Linked DNA regions of Homo sapiens. The protein of the gene in region 1 purifies or fractionates together with the protein of each later gene. This does not show direct contact. Each region holds a gene or a part of one and is shown in the gene's direction. Other genes may lie near its edges.

The links. The genes of interacting proteins can lie anywhere in the genome.
Region 2: the proteins of ADGRG2 (region 1) and GMIP purify together in Homo sapiens (affinity purification with mass spectrometry; one large-scale study listed by BioGRID and IntAct). This does not show direct contact.
Region 3: the proteins of ADGRG2 (region 1) and CFAP69 purify together in Homo sapiens (affinity purification with mass spectrometry; one large-scale study listed by BioGRID and IntAct). This does not show direct contact.
Region 4: the proteins of ADGRG2 (region 1) and GPR89A purify together in Homo sapiens (affinity purification with mass spectrometry, with the first as the bait; one large-scale study listed by BioGRID). This does not show direct contact.

What each region holds. Positions count from the first base shown.
Region 1 is NC_000023.11:18,990,270-18,994,492, reverse strand, and holds part of ADGRG2 (adhesion G-protein coupled receptor G2 isoform 1 precursor), read left to right. Parts: intron 1-3,444; coding exon 3,445-3,629; 3' UTR 3,630-4,223. UniProt on the Homo sapiens protein: Adhesion G-protein coupled receptor (aGPCR) for steroid hormones, such as dehydroepiandrosterone (DHEA; also named 3beta-hydroxyandrost-5-en-17-one) and androstenedione.
Region 2 is NC_000019.10:19,633,658-19,638,108, reverse strand, and holds part of GMIP (GEM-interacting protein), read left to right. Parts: intron 1-51; coding exon 52-189; intron 190-547; coding exon 548-744; intron 745-1,079; coding exon 1,080-1,192; intron 1,193-1,312; coding exon 1,313-1,402; intron 1,403-2,387; coding exon 2,388-2,465; intron 2,466-2,539; coding exon 2,540-2,694; intron 2,695-2,895; coding exon 2,896-3,084; intron 3,085-3,179; coding exon 3,180-3,317; intron 3,318-3,405; coding exon 3,406-3,602; intron 3,603-3,918; coding exon 3,919-4,306; intron 4,307-4,451. UniProt on the Homo sapiens protein: Stimulates, in vitro and in vivo, the GTPase activity of RhoA.
Region 3 is NC_000007.14:90,271,723-90,276,173, forward strand, and holds part of CFAP69 (cilia- and flagella-associated protein 69), read left to right. Parts: intron 1-58; coding exon 59-236; intron 237-2,264; coding exon 2,265-2,388; intron 2,389-4,451. UniProt on the Homo sapiens protein: Cilium- and flagellum-associated protein. In the olfactory epithelium, regulates the speed of activation and termination of the odor response and thus contributes to the robustness of olfactory transduction pathways.
Region 4 is NC_000001.11:145,617,037-145,621,487, forward strand, and holds part of GPR89A (Golgi pH regulator A), read left to right. Parts: intron 1-1,283; coding exon 1,284-1,387; intron 1,388-4,451. UniProt on the Homo sapiens protein: Voltage-gated channel that enables the transfer of anions such as iodide, chloride, bromide and fluoride which may function in counter-ion conductance and participates in Golgi acidification.

The sequences.
Region 1 (4,223 bases):
GGAGTCTCACTCTTGTTGCCCAGGCTGGAGTGCAATGGTGCAATCTCAGCTCACTGCAACCTCCACCTCCTGGGTTCCAGCAATTCTGCCTCAGCCTCCCGAGTAGCTGGAATTACAGGTGACCTACAGGTGACCGCCACGATGCCCAGCTAATTTTTGTATTTTTAGTAGAGACAGGTTTCACCATGTTGGCCAGGCTAGTCTCGAGCTCCTGACCACAAGTGATTTGCCCACCTCGGCCTCCCAAAGTGCTGGGATTACAGGTGTGAGCCACCGCGCCCAGCCAACACTTTTAAACCTTCCTATTTTTTGCTTTTCATGTTTGTTAATTCTTTCCCACAATGTGGCTGTCTTGTGACAGCACCCAAATCCCCATGAATATGTCAAAATACTGGAAGATGACTTGTGACCAGTATTGGTGACCATATATGTGACCAATATCTGAACAGATTATTGCTGCCATGCCTCCTTTACTCATTAATTCTGACATTTCTAGCTAAAACTTCTGTTACATTTTCTTTCTTTCATAAGACCAGGCTGTTCATTACTCATAAAAGCTTACCTTATCTATTTTTACCTTCTCTTGCTTCTTAATATATCTTTTGCATTCTTATAAAAACATAAGCTCTGCTGGTATAGTTTCTCCTTCCATGGAGAATTTGCCTGTATTCATTGTTTTAGGATGTTAGTTCTTTTCATGACTAACTCAAATAAATTTGTGAGAAGGTTCATACATCTACCAGTTTTCCCGTTTCCTGAAGATGGGCAGTCCTGCTGGTGTGTCTAGACTTTTTTTTTTTTTTTTCTTTTTTTTTATGACAAGGTCTCCTATTGCCCAGGCTGGAGTTCAGTGGTATGATCACGGTTCACTGCAGCCTCGACCTCCCAGGCTCAAGTGATCCTCCCACCTCAGCCACCCGAGTAGCTGGGACTGTAGGAGCATGCCACCATGGCTGGCTAATTTTTTTTTTTTTTTAAGATGCAGTCTTGCTGTGTTGTCCAGGTTGGTCTCAAACTCCTGGGCTCAAGTGATCCTCCCGCCTCAGCCTCCCAAAGTGCTGGGATTACAGGTGTGAGCCACTGTGCCCGGCCTGTCTAGGCTTTTAAAATACCATAGGATGCCTCAAAATCAAGGTTTCTCAACTTCAAGCACAATTGACATTTTGGGGCTGGATAATTCTTTTTTGTGGAATTGCAGGACATTTAGCAGGATCCCTGGACTCTATCAACTAGAGCCAGTAGCACCCTGCCCCCAGTTATGACAACCCAAAATGTCCCCAGACACTGCCAACTGTCCCAGGGGAGCGGGGAGAAGAAGGGAGCAAGATTGCCCCCAGTTGAGAATCACTGCTGTAAAAGATGAGAAATAACTGTTGTATAGCCTTAGCTCTTTACTGTCGATACCAGAAAGCAAGCTCTGGGCTCTACACCAAATAGCTCTATCAGGAATGATTCAATGTAGGTAAACAGAGGCGAGGCAGCGGGGAGCACAGCTGGTTAGTACGTTAGTGTGAGAAAGCAAATTGAAAGGAGAGACATCAAAGGAGCGAGCAGGGTCATCTGGGGCTCTGAATCCATAAACCAGATTTGTCCATATTCTCGAAAGAGCTCAGAGATGAAGCCTCACCTGCCTAGCTCTATCAACATGTTGTCATCCTTTGGGAAATCAGATTTCATGGAAACAGCACATTTTACCACAGTTGTTTAACACAGCTGATTTGACACAGCTACTTTTGATGCTTGACGGTGAGGATGGGGGTACATTTTAAGGCTGCCAAAATGGCTCAGTGTTTAATATCACATAATATGCATGTCAGATAACCATTCCTGACTCCTCAGTCCTTGCCCCAGCATCTGGGATAGATGAGGAATGGAATTGGCAATTTCAAAAAAGAAAGCTAGGGCTGGGCGCAGTGGCTCACACCTGTAATCCCAGCACTTTGGGAGGCTAAGTTAGGAGGATCACCTGAGGTCAGGAGTTCAAGACCAGCCTGGCCAACATGGAAAAACTCCATCTCTAATAAAAAATGTGAAAATCAACCAGACGTGGTGGCACACACCTGTAGTCCCAGCTACTCAGGAAGCTGAGGCAGGAGAATCGCTTGAACCCAGGAGACAGAAGTTGCAGTGAGCCTAGATCTCACCACTGCACTCCAGCATGGGCGACAGAACGAGACTCCGTCTCAACAACAACAAAAAAAGCTAGAAGTTTAATGATTTATTATGCCAGACCAAATTGTTCTTGCACCAAAATGTCCTCAAGCCGAAATGCCTAAATCCAAACAGCTGCCTCAGACAGTCACATGCCCTATTTGATCTGTGTCACAGATGGAGCTACGTTAACCATATTCATCACCTAGTTTGCATGAATATTACACAGTTCAGTTCTGAGCTGCCTTAGAGGGTGGGGTACCAGCAGCCATCTCATTTGGTACCCAGGACCACAAGGATCACAGTTTGGAAGCAACATCACACGTCAACTCCATTACTTCTGAGCTGTGTGACCTTGGGGAGAGCACTTAATTTCTGAAACCTTCGTTTCCTCATCTGCAAAATGGGGATAACAGTAGTACCCACCCTGCAGGGCTCTAAATGAGATAATAAAGTGTCCCAGTACTGTTATGATCATTGTTATCATAATCATGTCATGAACTATCAAATGGGCTTATTATTCAGCTTTGTGTATAGTCTCCCAATGGTCTAATGATCAGAAGGATGGTGCCAAGTAACTAGAGGAGGCCAGCACCTGTGCTCCCCTATAACTCAGGGCCTGCTTGGGGTGGGGAAGGCCCACGTCCAAACCAACAGTTACCCTTGAGTGCCCAGCTGCTCCCTGGCCTGGACTCTGAAGTTGGAATTGGTAGTTTCCTCTTGGGAATTTGTCCTGTCCTGATTTAGTCAGAGGAGCTGGTTTAATCTACAAGAGAGATGATTTCTTCTTGCCATGACTGTTGTAGCTGGTTGCTCTGGTTTCTCTGGTACAAAGTTTCATTTTATAGGAACCTAGGGAACCAAGAACTTCCTAAGGGTACATATGGGGATCTCTGTTAACATTAACCTTTTGGGAGACCAAAGTATTACCTTAGCTTATATTATACATATGCTGCTACTTGAAGTCAAAACATATCCAACCAGAGTTAGGAAGTGGGCCTTTTATTAATATATTACCTTGCTTCAGATTTTGACTGTTTCATTAAAAACCAAACAAAAAAAAAACTGCCATAGAGAACTGGTTTCTGAAGCAATCTCCACTTTGGTATGCTTACTTTGAGTGGCCTTAGGGAAGTAATGAAAAATAAATAAAATATGAACATATATCACAAATGTTTTTAAAAACATATTTTACAAATACATCTTTAAGAATAAAGCAATGTCTAAGTTTGTTTGCTTTTTAATGCTTTCTGTGGATACTTCATGCCACCCGCTTTGTGTTTCCTTATACAGGAAATGCTTCTACAGAGAGGAATGGGGTCTCTTTTAGTGTTCAGAATGGAGATGTGTGCCTTCACGATTTCACTGGAAAACAGCACATGTTTAACGAGAAGGAAGATTCCTGCAATGGGAAAGGCCGTATGGCTCTCAGAAGGACTTCAAAGCGGGGAAGCTTACACTTTATTGAGCAAATGTGATTCCTTTCTTCTAAAATCAAAGCATGATGCTTGACAGTGTGAAATGTCCAATTTTACCTTTTACACAATGTGAGATGTATGAAAATCAACTCATTTTATTCTCGGCAACATCTGGAGAAGCATAAGCTAATTAAGGGCGATGATTATTATTACAAGAAGAAACCAAGACATTACACCATGGTTTTTAGACATTTCTGATTTGGTTTCTTATCTTTCATTTTATAAGAAGGTTGGTTTTAAACAATACACTAAGAATGACTCCTATAAAGAAAACAAAAAAAGGTAGTGAACTTTCAGCTACCTTTTAAAGAGGCTAAGTTATCTTTGATAACATCATATAAAGCAACTGTTGACTTCAGCCTGTTGGTGAGTTTAGTTGTGCATGCCTTTGTTGTATATAAGCTAAATTCTAGTGACCCATGTGTCAAAAATCTTACTTCTACATTTTTTTGTATTTATTTTCTACTGTGTAAATGTATTCCTTTGTAGAATCATGGTTGTTTTGTCTCACGTGATAATTCAGAAAATCCTTGCTCGTTCCGCAAATCCTAAAGCTCCTTTTGGAGATGATATAGGATGTGAAATACAGAAACC
Region 2 (4,451 bases), on another chromosome or scaffold:
CACTCTCGCCCACACGCGCCCCACCCCGCTCCTGGCCTCCCGTTTCCCCAGGCGCAGGAGGCCGAGGCGCTGTACCAGGCCTGTGTCCGCGAGGCCAACGCGCGGCAGCAGGACCTGGAGATCGCCAAGCAGCGAATCGTGTCGCACGTGCGCAAGCTGGTGTTTCAGGGGGATGAAGTGCTGAGGCGGGTGAGGCCCATCCCCAAGGCCATCCTCCCCTCACCCCGTTGGGGCCCCGACTGAGTGCCCCACTCCTCGCCCCTAAGCCACCCTGGAGACACCAGGACTAGGCCATTTCCCTCGACAGCCAGTTCCCGCCCCCAGACCCACTGTCTCGGCTCCGCCCCATGAGGTCCTGTCCCCTGGATGACCAGCCCCTGCTCTGACCATGCCTGGGTCCCCTGGCCGACTGCCCTAGTTCCTAAGCCGCCCAGGTGCGTCCCAAACCCTGACCACGTTCGCGTCTCTCAAGCCCCGCCCCAGCTCTGGCCCTGCCCCCAGGCTCCCAGGCTCCGCCCCTCCCCAACCTGCTGTCTCCACCCGGCAGGTGACGCTGAGTCTCTTCGGGCTGCGGGGGGCGCAGGCAGAGCGTGGCCCCCGCGCCTTCGCCGCCCTGGCCGAGTGCTGTGCGCCCTTTGAGCCGGGCCAGCGCTACCAGGAGTTTGTACGGGCGCTGCGGCCCGAGGCCCCGCCGCCCCCGCCGCCCGCCTTCTCCTTCCAGGAGTTCCTTCCCTCCTTGAACAGGTGGGTCACTGGAGCAGGGAGTCGGGAACGAGCCCCGGAATCGCGATGCCAGGCTGTTGGCACCGCAGGCTGGTTACTCGAGGTTAGAGAACGCAAAGCCTTAGTGGAATTTAGTACTCCAGGCTCTCGGGGGCCATAGGAGGGTGAATGGGTTGTCCCAGTCCTAGGGGCAGGGGCAGGAATGTGGGGCTACTGTATTTCAGGGGCCACAATGCCCTGGGTGTCAGGGTTTGCAGACCCAAGTGCTTGGAGTTGGTACCTAGACATGATGCCTGGGTGCCATCACCCCAGGCCAGTTTCCTGGGATTCAAACCTTCAAACTTCTGTCTTCTCAGCTCCCCTCTGGACATCAGAAAGAAGCTCTCTGGGCCTCTTCCTCCAAGGCTGGATGAGAATTCAGCTGAGCCAGGCCCTTGGGAGGATCCGGGCACAGGCTGGCGCTGGCAAGGTGAGTGCAATGAGGGCCAGGTGGGAGTGGTGCCAGGAGTTCGTTCCACCAACACATAGGTGGGCTGCAGGAGTGGGGTTTGTGAGCAGGGGACCATCCTTATTGACCTGTGCCACCTAGGGACTCCAGGCCCCACTCCGGGCAGCGATGTGGACAGCGTGGGTGGCGGCAGCGAGTCTCGGTCCCTGGACTCACCCACTTCCAGCCCAGGTAGGGATAGGACCTGGTCCTGACCCACACTCCACCTGTGACCATCCTCCAGCCCCTGGCCAAGCTCTGACCCTCAATCTTTAACTATCTTTGACCTCTGACCTACCCCACACCCCTGACCTATTTCCTCAACCTCTTTTTTTACCTTTTTAAAAATTATTTATTTATTTATTTGTTTGTTTATTTGAGACAGTCTCATTCTGTCGCCCAGCCTGGAGTGCAGTGGCGTGATCTCGGCTCACTGCAACCTCCACCTCCCAGATTCAAGCGATTCTCCTGTCTCAGCCTCTGGAGTAGCTGGGATTACAGGTGTGCACTACCACGCCGGCTGATTTTTGTATTTTTTAGTAGAGACGGGGTTTCACCATGTTGGCCAGGCTGATCTCGAACTCCTGACCTCAGGTGATCCACCTGCCTCGGTCTCCCAAAGTGCAGGGATTACAGGTGTGTGCCACCACGCCCGGCCTTTTCTTTTCTTTTCTTTCTTTCTTTTTTTTTTTTTTGAGACAGAGTCTTGCTCTGTTGCCCAGGCTGGAGCGCAGTGGTACGATCTTGGCTCACTGCAACCTCCGCCTCCCAGGTTCAAGCGATTCTCGTGCCTCAGCCTCCCGAGTAGCTGGGACTACAGGTGCCTGCCACCATGCCTGGTTAATGTTTGTATTTTTAGTAGAGACAAGGTTTTGCCATGTTGGCCAGGCTGGTGTCAAACTCCTTGCCTCATGTGATCCTCCTGCCTCAGCTTCCCAAAGTGCTGGGATTACAGGTGTGAGCCACTGCGCCCGGCCTATTTCCTCAACCTCTTGATCCAGCTTATGAACCACCCCCCTCAGGTTGCTGACCCAATTCTCCAACCCTTAACCACTGACCTGTCCAATCCCCCTCCTGACCTCTGACCCCTTGGGAATTAGTGGGTGGTTCTGGAAGCCCTAAAAACCAGGAGTGCCTCCCATAGCCCAGGAATCTCCCATGATTCCTCTGACCCCAGGCGCTGGCACGAGGCAGCTGGTGAAGGCTTCGTCCACAGGCACTGAGTCCTCAGATGACTTTGAGGAGCGAGACCCTGGTGAGGCTGAAGCAGGGTAGGTCAGGATGGGACAGGGCAGGGCACCAGGCACTCCTGACCCTGTCTCCCTGCAGACCTGGGAGACGGGCTGGAGAATGGGCTGGGCAGCCCCTTCGGGAAGTGGACACTGTCCAGCGCGGCTCAGACCCACCAGCTGCGGCGACTGCGGGGCCCAGCCAAGTGCCGCGAGTGCGAAGCCTTCATGGTCAGCGGGACGGAGTGTGAGGAGGTGTGGCCTGGGTTAATGACCAAATGACCTTTGCTGACCCTTGATCATCTCCCTGACCTGAGATTCCTACAGCCTTTCTGCCCCTGGGACCCACCCTAACCTGATGTCTCCCATGAGCCCCCATTCCTTGAGGATCCTTGTAACCTTCTCTTCCCCTACTGGTCCCTAATGACCTCCCTGTCCCTGTGACCTTCCCCACAGTGCTTTCTGACCTGCCACAAGCGCTGCCTGGAGACTCTCCTGATCCTCTGTGGACACAGGCGGCTCCCAGCCCGGACACCCCTTTTTGGGGTTGACTTCCTGCAGCTACCCAGGGACTTCCCGGAGGAGGTACCCTTTGTGGTCACGAAGTGCACGGCTGAGATAGAACACCGTGCCCTGGATGTGCAGGTGCTGCCCTGACCCTTCATCATCCCCAGAAGTGACCTGACCGAATCGATGGCCTATCACGAACCAGGTGTCTGTTTTTCACCCTCACCCTGCAGGGCATTTACCGGGTCAGCGGGTCCCGGGTCCGTGTGGAGCGGCTGTGCCAGGCTTTCGAGAATGGCCGAGCGTTGGTGGAGCTGTCGGGGAACTCGCCTCATGACGTCTCGAGTGTCCTCAAGCGATTTCTTCAGGAGGTTGGTGCTCAGGACACTGAGGGGGACGCGGGCAGGAGCCCTCCACAGCCCACCCACACTCGTGTTGCGCCCTCCGTTCCACCCCCAGCTCACCGAGCCCGTGATCCCCTTCCACCTCTACGACGCCTTCATCTCTCTGGCTAAGACCTTGCATGCAGACCCTGGGGACGACCCTGGGACCCCCAGCCCCAGCCCTGAGGTTATCCGCTCGCTGAAGACCCTCTTGGTACAGCTGCCTGACTCTAACTACAACACCCTGCGGCACCTGGTGGCCCATCTGTTCAGGTGTGCATGGGTCCCTGAGCCTTGAAACGCGACCCTTTTCCCTGGACATGCGACTACTAACTTCCCTGGCTGACCCCTGACACTGACCTCTGACCTTTGACCTGTGTTTTCTGAACTCTGAACCTTAATCCATGATTCATAACTTTGGGTACTGACCCCTGACCTCCAGTTCTGGATATGTGGCTGCTGGTCTCAGACGACTTACACCTGTGACATGGGCAAGTCACCTCTAGGCTGGCCTGCGTGTCCCACCCTTACCCTCAGACCAATGAGCTTGCATCCTGTACCCTGACCTTTCTCTTCACACCATCCCCAGGGTGGCTGCACGATTTATGGAAAACAAGATGTCTGCCAACAACCTGGGCATTGTGTTTGGGCCGACACTGCTGCGGCCGCCGGACGGCCCGCGGGCAGCCAGCGCCATCCCTGTCACCTGCCTGCTGGACTCTGGGCATCAGGCCCAGCTTGTGGAGTTCCTCATCGTGCACTACGAGCAGATCTTTGGGATGGATGAGCTCCCCCAGGCCACTGAGCCCCCGCCCCAAGACTCCAGCCCAGCCCCTGGGCCCCTCACAACCAGCTCCCAACCGCCACCCCCGCACCTTGACCCAGACTCCCAGCCCCCAGTCCTAGCCTCAGACCCCGGCCCAGACCCCCAGCACCACAGTACCCTGGAGCAGCATCCCACGGCCACACCTACCGAGGTAAGAACCCACTGGGCCCACAGCTATGGAGAGGGCCTTATCTCTGTTCAATTCTCTTACCTTCTCTTTCACCTTCCTTCCTTTTTAAAATTTCCTTCATTCTCTTCCTCCCTTCCTCATTTAACTTATGTTCATTCTGGAAGGA
Region 3 (4,451 bases), on another chromosome or scaffold:
TTATGTCTAAAAATGTCAATATTGTAAAGCACAAATAATTTTTAAAATTTATTTTCAGAAGTTAATTGTACTATAATGATGAAAGCACAAGCAGCCAGTGGAATCTGTACTCACCTCAATGACCCAGATCCCTCTGGACAGCTTTTATTTCGTTCATCAGAAATACTTTGGAACTTGCTGGAAAAATCTTCAAAAGAAGAAGTCATACAACAGCTTAGTAACTTGGAATGTTTGCTGTAAGCGTATGTGGTTAGATAGGAATGTTCTTTTAATCTTAAAATGACAGCCAGTGACATAACTAACATCTTTGTTTGAATCTGTGTTCAATTATGTTTTAGATTCATGTAATGGCTATGTTTCAGGACATCTTTTTTGTTCCATGGTATAAATGAATCTGCACAATAACAAGCCACACTTTTCTATGTGGAAGGCTCTTGAAGTAGCTTCTTAACACTAAAATATAACTTGGAATATAGATAAAGTAAAATTAGACTTTAGAAGAACTATTTCATTTATTTATCCAGTGAATCTATTATTGAGTGCTTACTATCTCCCAGATATTGCAGTAAGCATTAGCAACAAAATGTGCGTAAGCCTTCAAGTTGCTTCTTCACTTATTCAACAAATAATTGTCTGCTCTATGCCAGCTTCAGTATTAAGCCATAGAAATACCACTGAAAACAATATAGATATTGTCTCTGCTTTCGTGGAATTTACATTGTGCTAGGAGGGATGGACAAGTAAATAGACAACTAAAAGAGAACATACTAAATGTTATGAAACAGATTATTGTAAGATGCTACATGTTCTTCAGAAGAAGATCAGTCAGCACATTTTTGTTTGCAAGTGACTAAAAACCCAAATGACCAAAGCAATATAGAAAATTTATGGCTTATTTAACTACAAAGTCAAGGATAAAACTGGTTTCATGTGCAGCTTTATTCAGGGATCAGCAGATACTAGGACTTCGTCCCTCCTCTCTCTACATTGTCTTCCATGGTGCTGGCTTCACACCCAAGCCTATGTAGTAAGACCTAAGAAGTCTACGATCACATCATTTCAACCTCAAATCAAGCAGAAGAGAAACCTTGCTATCCTGAAGGCTCAGAGAAAAGTCTTTGAATTGAGTCCAGTTTGGCCCTGAATGGTCTAATATTGGTCAAATGCCTGTTCCACAGTGATTTATTAGTGCCAAAAGAAAAAATGCTCTGACTGGCGAAAAGGCAGCTGAAGGCAGCCTCACAGGAGCAAAAGTCAGGAAGGAGTAAATGCCTAAATAAAAATAAGAATGCTGTTCTTATAAAAAGGGCAAGTAGGTCCCAGGAGGCAAAGCAACAAATATCTACTATTAATACAAGGGAACCTAACTCAGAGTTGGAGAATTAATAACTGCTTCCTAATGAACTCAAGTCTAGTAACTGAATGACAAACAGGACTTGGTAACAGAAAAGTTTTGCATGCGGAGAGCATCCTAGACAGGGAAAACAAGTGAAAATATAATTAGCAAAATCAGAAAACTAAAATTCAGTATGATGAGAGCAGAAGGAACAGGCTACAATGGTGAGAGATGAGGCTAACAATGTTATCAGGGACCATAACATGAAAGGTCTAATAAGCCTTGTTAAGGAGGTAGGACTTAATCCTAAGAACAAAGAATAGTCTTTAAATGGTTTTACAAAGGAAAATGACATGATTGAATGTGTTATAGAGCTGTCACTTTGACCACCATGTGTAATAGACTGGTTTAGTGGATTCTTATCTGGTACATAGAGGATTAGAGGCAGATTTGGAAGTGTAAAAAATATTAGAAATATGTTCAAATGAATAGTATAATATAAAAAGGGAGATTTTGTTGATAGACATTCAGGAAGTATTTTCATAAAAGTGTGTGTTTTAGTTTGAGCTGCTATAATAAAGTACCGTAAACTGGGTGGTTTATAAACAACAGAAAGTTATTTTTCAGTTTGGGAGGCTAGAATTCTGATATCAGGGTGCCAGTGTGGTTGGGTTCTGATGAGGGTGCTCTTCTGGGTTGCATACTGCTGATCTCTTGTATTCTTACATGGAGGAAAGAGAGCAAGACAGCTCTCTGGAGTCCCTTTTATAAGGGCACTAATTCCATTCATGAGGGCTCATTACCTCCCTAAGGCCTCACTCCTAAAACCATCACATTGGGGGTTAGGATTTAAATATATGAATTTTGGAGGGACGCAAACATTTAGTGTATAACAATATAGTTTTTAAAATATGATTTTACTTTCTAGGGCTTTGAAGGAAGTATTTAAAAATCTGTTTATGAGAGGTTTCAGTCATTATGACCGTCAGCTTAGAAATGACATATTAGTGATCACTACAATTATAGCTCAAAATCCTGAAGCACCAATGATTGTAAGTATGAATCAAATTGCATTAATTTTAATTGTGGAAGTGGTGGGCTTGGGTGAAAGAAGTCCTATATTATGTTGGAATATTTGTGTATTTTCTTGTAATGCTAAGTTATGCTGTAATATCTTGATGGTCACCAGTGTGCTTATCACTCTGCCAATTCTTCTTTGCAATCCTTTGGAAATTTGGAATCTTCCTCATATTGTGTGATTTATACATGTATTTACCACTTATGATGCTTTTCTTTCCTTCCTGATGATTTGAGTTTCCATCTGGCATCATTTCTCTTTCACTGGAAGAACTTTGTTTACAATTTCTTGTGGTGCAAATCTACTGGCTGCTGGCAACAAGTTATCTTAGTTTTCTTTTATCTGAAAATATATTTAATTCATCTTAATTCTTAAAGTCTATGCTCATTGAATATAGAACTCTAGGCTGAAAAATGTTTTTGTTTAGCATTTCAAAGATAAAGTTCTGCTGTCTTATGGAGTCTGTTGTTTCTGATGAGAAATATTCATTGTGAGGTTCCATGGTGTAATGGTGAGCACCCTGGACTCTGATGAGAAGTATCCATTATTTCAAATCGTTATTCCCCTATGTATAATATATCATCCTTTTCTCTCACTGTTTTCAAGATTTTAACTCTATCTTTGGTTCCTAGCAGTTTCGAAATGATGTGCTAAGGTGAGATCTCCTTTGTATTTGTTCTGCTTAGGTTTCATAGAGCTTCTTGGATATATAAATTTAAGTCTTTGAGAAGATTTGGAGAACTCTTGGCCATTATTTCTTCAAATATTTTTTCAGCCCCATTCTCTCTCCCCACTTCTTCAGAGGCTCTGATTACTTTTATGTTTGACTTTTTGATATTGTCCCACAGGTTTGTGAGGCTCTGCTCACTTTTTTCAATCATTTTTCTCTCTATTCTTCAGGTTGGATAATTTGTATTAGTCTATATATTTAAATTCACTGACTTTTTTATTTCTGTCATCTCCATTCTGCTGTTAATCTCATCCAGTGCATTTTTACTTCAGATATATTTTTCAGTTTTAGAATTTATTTTTATTCCTTTTTATAGTGTCTCTCCTGAGAGTTCTTATCTTTCTATTCATTATGAGCATCTTTACTGTAGATTCTGGTATACTCCTCTGAAGAATTTTTAATAACTACATATTTAACTTAGCTGTACTCATCCCTTTTTGAGGTATGGCAGCCCAAATCTTAATTCAGTTCTTGCCTGGGATGCTTGAGTATTCTCTGCACTTGTGTGGTTCAGCTATCAGCCAGATATTTGGGAAGAGTTTGTACACAGAATTTAGCATTCTCTCTCTCTGGCTCTCTCCTTTATGGGATTTCTCCCTTCACTTTCCAATGGCTGTGGTTGCCTCTGCCCTCTGGTTCTTCAGGCCACTAAGACCACAGGGTTACTCTGAGTTTTAGCATTTCCACGAGGTGTAGAATACGGCCTGCTCTCAGGCCAAAAGCCTTTTTTTTTTTTTTTTTTTTTTTTTTTTTGAGACGGAATCTTGCTCTGTCGCCCAGGCCGGAGTGCAGTGGCGCGATCTCAGCTCACTGCAAGCTCCGCCTCCCGGGTTTGCGCCATTCTCCTGCCTCAGTCTCCTGAGTAGCTGGGACTACAGGCACCCGCCACCACACCCGGCTAATTTTTTCGTATTTTTAGTAGAGACAGGGTTTCACTGTGTTAGCCAGGATGGTCTCGATCTCCTGACCTCAGGATCTGCCCGCCTTGGCCTCCCAAAGTGCTGGGATTACAGGCGTGAGCCACCGCGCCCGGCCCCAAAAGCCTTTTTTAAAATGGGAAACTCGTGTAGTGCCATTCCCTTCTACAAAATTCTGACATCCTTCCAGTGTCTGCTTACTCTTGGTCACAAGATAGTTTTATTTGTCACCAGCAGGAGAATTTCTCTCGGAGCTACTACTCATCTGTACCAGAAGCTGAGCCTTCACATATTTTATAATTAAAAATCATTGAATGATTGAAATTATTTAATAGAGATCCTTGGCAACAATATTCACAAGTCAGTCACGTAAGTTCTAGTTGTGCTACA
Region 4 (4,451 bases), on another chromosome or scaffold:
GACAACCAGTCTGACTAGAATTTACCAGGCTGGAATTTCCCAATCCTAGTAAGTCTGAGGGCACTGTAGGAGACCAGGGTGTATTTTAGTCCTATCTCAACCGCATAAGACAGACACTCCCAGAGCGGCCATTCATAGACCTCTCTCCCAGAATGCATTCCTTCCCCAGGGTTATTCCTTGCTGGAAAAAGAATTCAGCAGTATTTCTCCTACTCGCTTTCTGCAAGAAGAAGAGTATGACTCTATTCTGCCCAACCCCGCAAGCAGTCAGACCTTATGGTTATCTTTCCGTGTTCCCTGAAAATTGCTGTTATTCTGTTCTTTTTCAGGGTGCACTAATTTCATATTGTTCAAACACACATGTTTTTCAAACAATTTGTACAGTTAACGCAATCATCACAGGGTACTGAGGTGACATACATCCTCAGTTTACAAAGATGACGGGATTAAGAGATTAAAGTAAGACAGTCATAAGAAATTTAAAAAGTATTAATTTGGGGAACTAATAAATGTCCATGAAATCTTCACAATTTATGTTCAGAGATTGCAGTAAAGACAGGTGTAAGAAATTATAAAAGTATTAATTTTGGGAACTAATAAATGTCCATGAAACAATTTATGTTCTTCTGCTGCGGCTTCAGCCAGTCCCTCCATTCGGGGTCCCTGACTTCCCGCAACACAAGGCTGGTGTTGTTTTTATCTTAAGCTTTGGATTCAGAAGATCACCACCCTAGACTCGACATTTCCTAGTTAGTTCTCCTAATTAGTAATAAGATCAGTGGTTATAGTCTACATTTGGGTCATTTCTAGGATATTCTCCATTAAACTTTCCCAGGGAGTTTATTGTCTGAAAGAGCCTGGGATTCTGGAGATTTTCTTCTGCCCAATACTTTAAGACCTCCCGAGGAAGGTTCCAGAACTGATCCAGGATCTGCAGAGTGTTGAAGAACCCCTTTAAACATTAACCATTATGTACGAATCTGTCAGTTTTTTGTCAGTATGCATCAGGAATTCTAAGTGCTACCTATGACCCTGTCACTTCATCTTCTTGTCCTCAAAATTCTTCATCCACAGGAGGATGCTGGTAATAGTGACTCAAGATTCAGAAGTGCCACCTATATTGATCTTTTTCTTTAGCTCCAGGCAAGTTGCTGTTGTGGCCCTACTTCCAATGACTTGAGAATTTCCTCAAAATAAGTTTTCTGACTTGTAACCAGAAGGAGGTTATCAGTTCAGTTTTTAAACAAGGAAATAACTTCTAGTCTCTGTTTGGCTTTTAACAGATACGTCAGTATGTTGTACAGGTGATCTTCTCCGTGACGTTTGCATTTTCTTGCACCATGTTTGAGCTCATCATCTTTGAAATCTTAGGAGTATTGAATAGCAGGTGAGTAAGAGTACTGAAAACTCCTCTTGAAGAGTTCTGTGCTACATTCTTTACAGTGGAAAAGCTATTGGATCTCATAACTGAAAAAAAAAACACTGTGTTAATAGTTCAGTTTCAGTAACTGCAATGATCACAACAGATATGGGTCACAGCCACCTAATAGCTGGTTTGATAAAGATTATGAGATACCAGGAAACAAAAGATCTGACCGTTAACTCTGAAGAACTCATTGGAGTGAGGCTGTGAAGCTGCAGTCTAGGCTTCACTCCTAGAAGCTTTATTTTTCCAGGACTGCTCGCTGACTGAATCCCAGTAACAGCCCTTCACATTGTTCTGCTGATTGAAAATCTCTACCTGAAAAGATTAGAATTCCTCAGAGCTACTTTAATGATCTCTCTGAAGACTGAAACTCCAGTTCTTACTTAACTTAGTTATTTTTATTGATTTTACAGTCATGGTCAAGTTTGGTTGAATTTAAAGTGTTTCTTAAAACACTTTTTAAAAATAACTCTTTACTCCCCTCCAAATAATAGACTTGTTAGTTTATTAGACAGTCTATTCAAAATATTTCTTGCTTGTTAATCTGCAAGCTTGAGTATGTTTTTAGGCCAGCATTTATATGTAGGGTTCATCAACTATGCTATGCAGACTTTGTTGTGCTTTTTTATCACCACCTGGAAAAACCTTTTAGGAGTAAAGCAGTCTTTCACTCTAAAGTTAGGATTCAGTGCCAAGGTAAGTTCATTATAGACCCCTGGCACTTGAGACTTGTAGAGAGACTATACTCTCAAATCCTTTGATAATCAGAGTTGAAAACGAAATTTAAATTAAAAAGAAAAACTTACTATACAGATGGTTAATCACAAAACATTGAAAGGTTAAAAAAAAAAAAAGAAGAGAGAGGGGCCAGACATAGTGGCTCACGCCTATAATCCTAGCACTTTGGGAGGCTGAGGCAGGAGGATCACTTAAGTGCAGGGGTTCAAGACGAGCCTGGGCAACAAAGTGAGACCCTGTCTCTACAAAAAAATAAAAAAAATTAGCAGAGTGTGGTAGTACACGTCTGTAGTGCCAGCTACCCTGGAGGCTGAAGCAGGAGGATCCCTTGAGCCCAGGAGTTTGAGGATATGCAGTGAGCTGTGATCACTGGACAAGACAATGAGACCCCATCTCTTAAAAAAAAGAGTGAGAGAGAGAGAATCAGAGTTGATAATAATGGTCTCTTGATAGAACAATGAATAACATGTATTATGGTAAAATAGAAGTGTTTTCTGATTCTCCTGCTTTTAAACTTTAATAATCCAAACCTTGGCCGGGCACGGTGGCTCACGCCTGTAATCCCAGCACTTTGGGAGGCCAAGGCAGGCGGATCACGAGGTCAGGAGATCAAGACCATCCTGGCTAACATGGTGAAACCCCGTCTCTACTAAAAATACAAAAAATTAGCTGGGCGTGGTGGTGGGCGCCTGTAGTCCCAGCTACTTGGGGGGCTGAGGCAGGAGAATGGCCTGAACCCAGGAGGCAGAGCTTGCAGTGAGCCGAGATTGTGCCACTGCACTCCAGCCTGGGCGACAGAGCAAGACTCCATCTCAAAAAAATAAATAAATAAAAAATAATCCAAACCTTTTCTTGGATGAGCTAGATATAGATCCTGTGACTATAGAGAATAGACAGGTATTATTTTACATAATGGTTATTAAATTTTATTATCACAACCTGCATCTTTCACTGCTATTTAAGCAGGGGTTGGCAGGCTTTCTTCTGTAAAGGGCCAGATAATAAATATTTTAGGTTTCTGTGGACCAGAAGGTTTCTATCACAAGTACTCAGCTCTGCTGTTGTAGAGAGAAAACAGTCATAGGCAATATATAAACAAACGAGCATGGCCATGCTCCAATAAACTTAATTTGTAAAAGCAGGTGGCTGTGAGGCCATAGTTTGCCAGCTACTCATCTAAATATTGATACAGAGGATTCAGATATTCTAAAGCTATATTTACTGTTTTTGGTAGATGATGTCCCCCAACTTTTAACTTATAGTTAATAACCCGTATAGTAAGAAACATCTGTCATACTATGGTGTATGTTTCCTAAATTTCTTAATTAGTTAAAGAGGATAAGAAGTAGCATTGCTAAAATCTGGTTTTTCTTTGTGTGCTATATAGAGGATTGGGTCTGAGACATATCTTCAGTTATACCTGTTTTTTCATGCTAATGTTTCACCCAATTATGGAACACAAATATGAACCTTGATGATGTATAACTGTCCATTGACTGGACTCAGAATCGTTTTGAAAAGAGAATCTTGGCCAGAATATTCCTTTGACTCACCTTTGAGCAGAGATCATATGACTTCCTATTCAAATATGTAATCTTGTTGGGATGCTTAGTTTTTTCAAGAGAATATCACTTTACTCTCAGCTCAAAAGACTAGTTAAAACATGTGGTTCACTTTTAATAGGCAGTCCATACTGCCAATTAAAGTTGCACTTGTTATTTCAAACCCACTGCTTCCCAAAATCTTTCAGAAGCTTAGCTGAAATACTATGTAGTATTGCCTGGAGGATGTCCAGCTTGTTTCTTTCTCTAAATGTTCTAAAGTAGTTGTTAACCTAGAGGAGCAAAAAGCTGTCAATGTATCTAGTCTAAATGGTATTCACTCCCTGTAGGGTAGCTTTTACTGAATGGCTCTTTGTTTCGTGATGCCTGCCATCTGTACTAAGGAAGGAACAATAAGAAACAGCCCTCTGAAACATATTTCTCTTGAAAGGATGTTGTTGATGACACTGTTAATTGCCTTTGCATTTTCTTTATGAAATCTTTGAAGAAATTTCATTGTAATCTTGTTAATAATTCAGTAACAATAAATGATAATTATGCTTCCTTTGAGGAATTAATTTTTATTTTCTTACAGACATGATGATTTTATCTAACTGATCAAATTTTTTATTTCACATTGACCATTAGAAAACTTAAAGCTAAATTTATGACCTACCCATAGCAACTTTCTAGAATTCTGTTTTATAATAGCCATCAGGCTTGGCCCAATATTTTACCTGTTACCA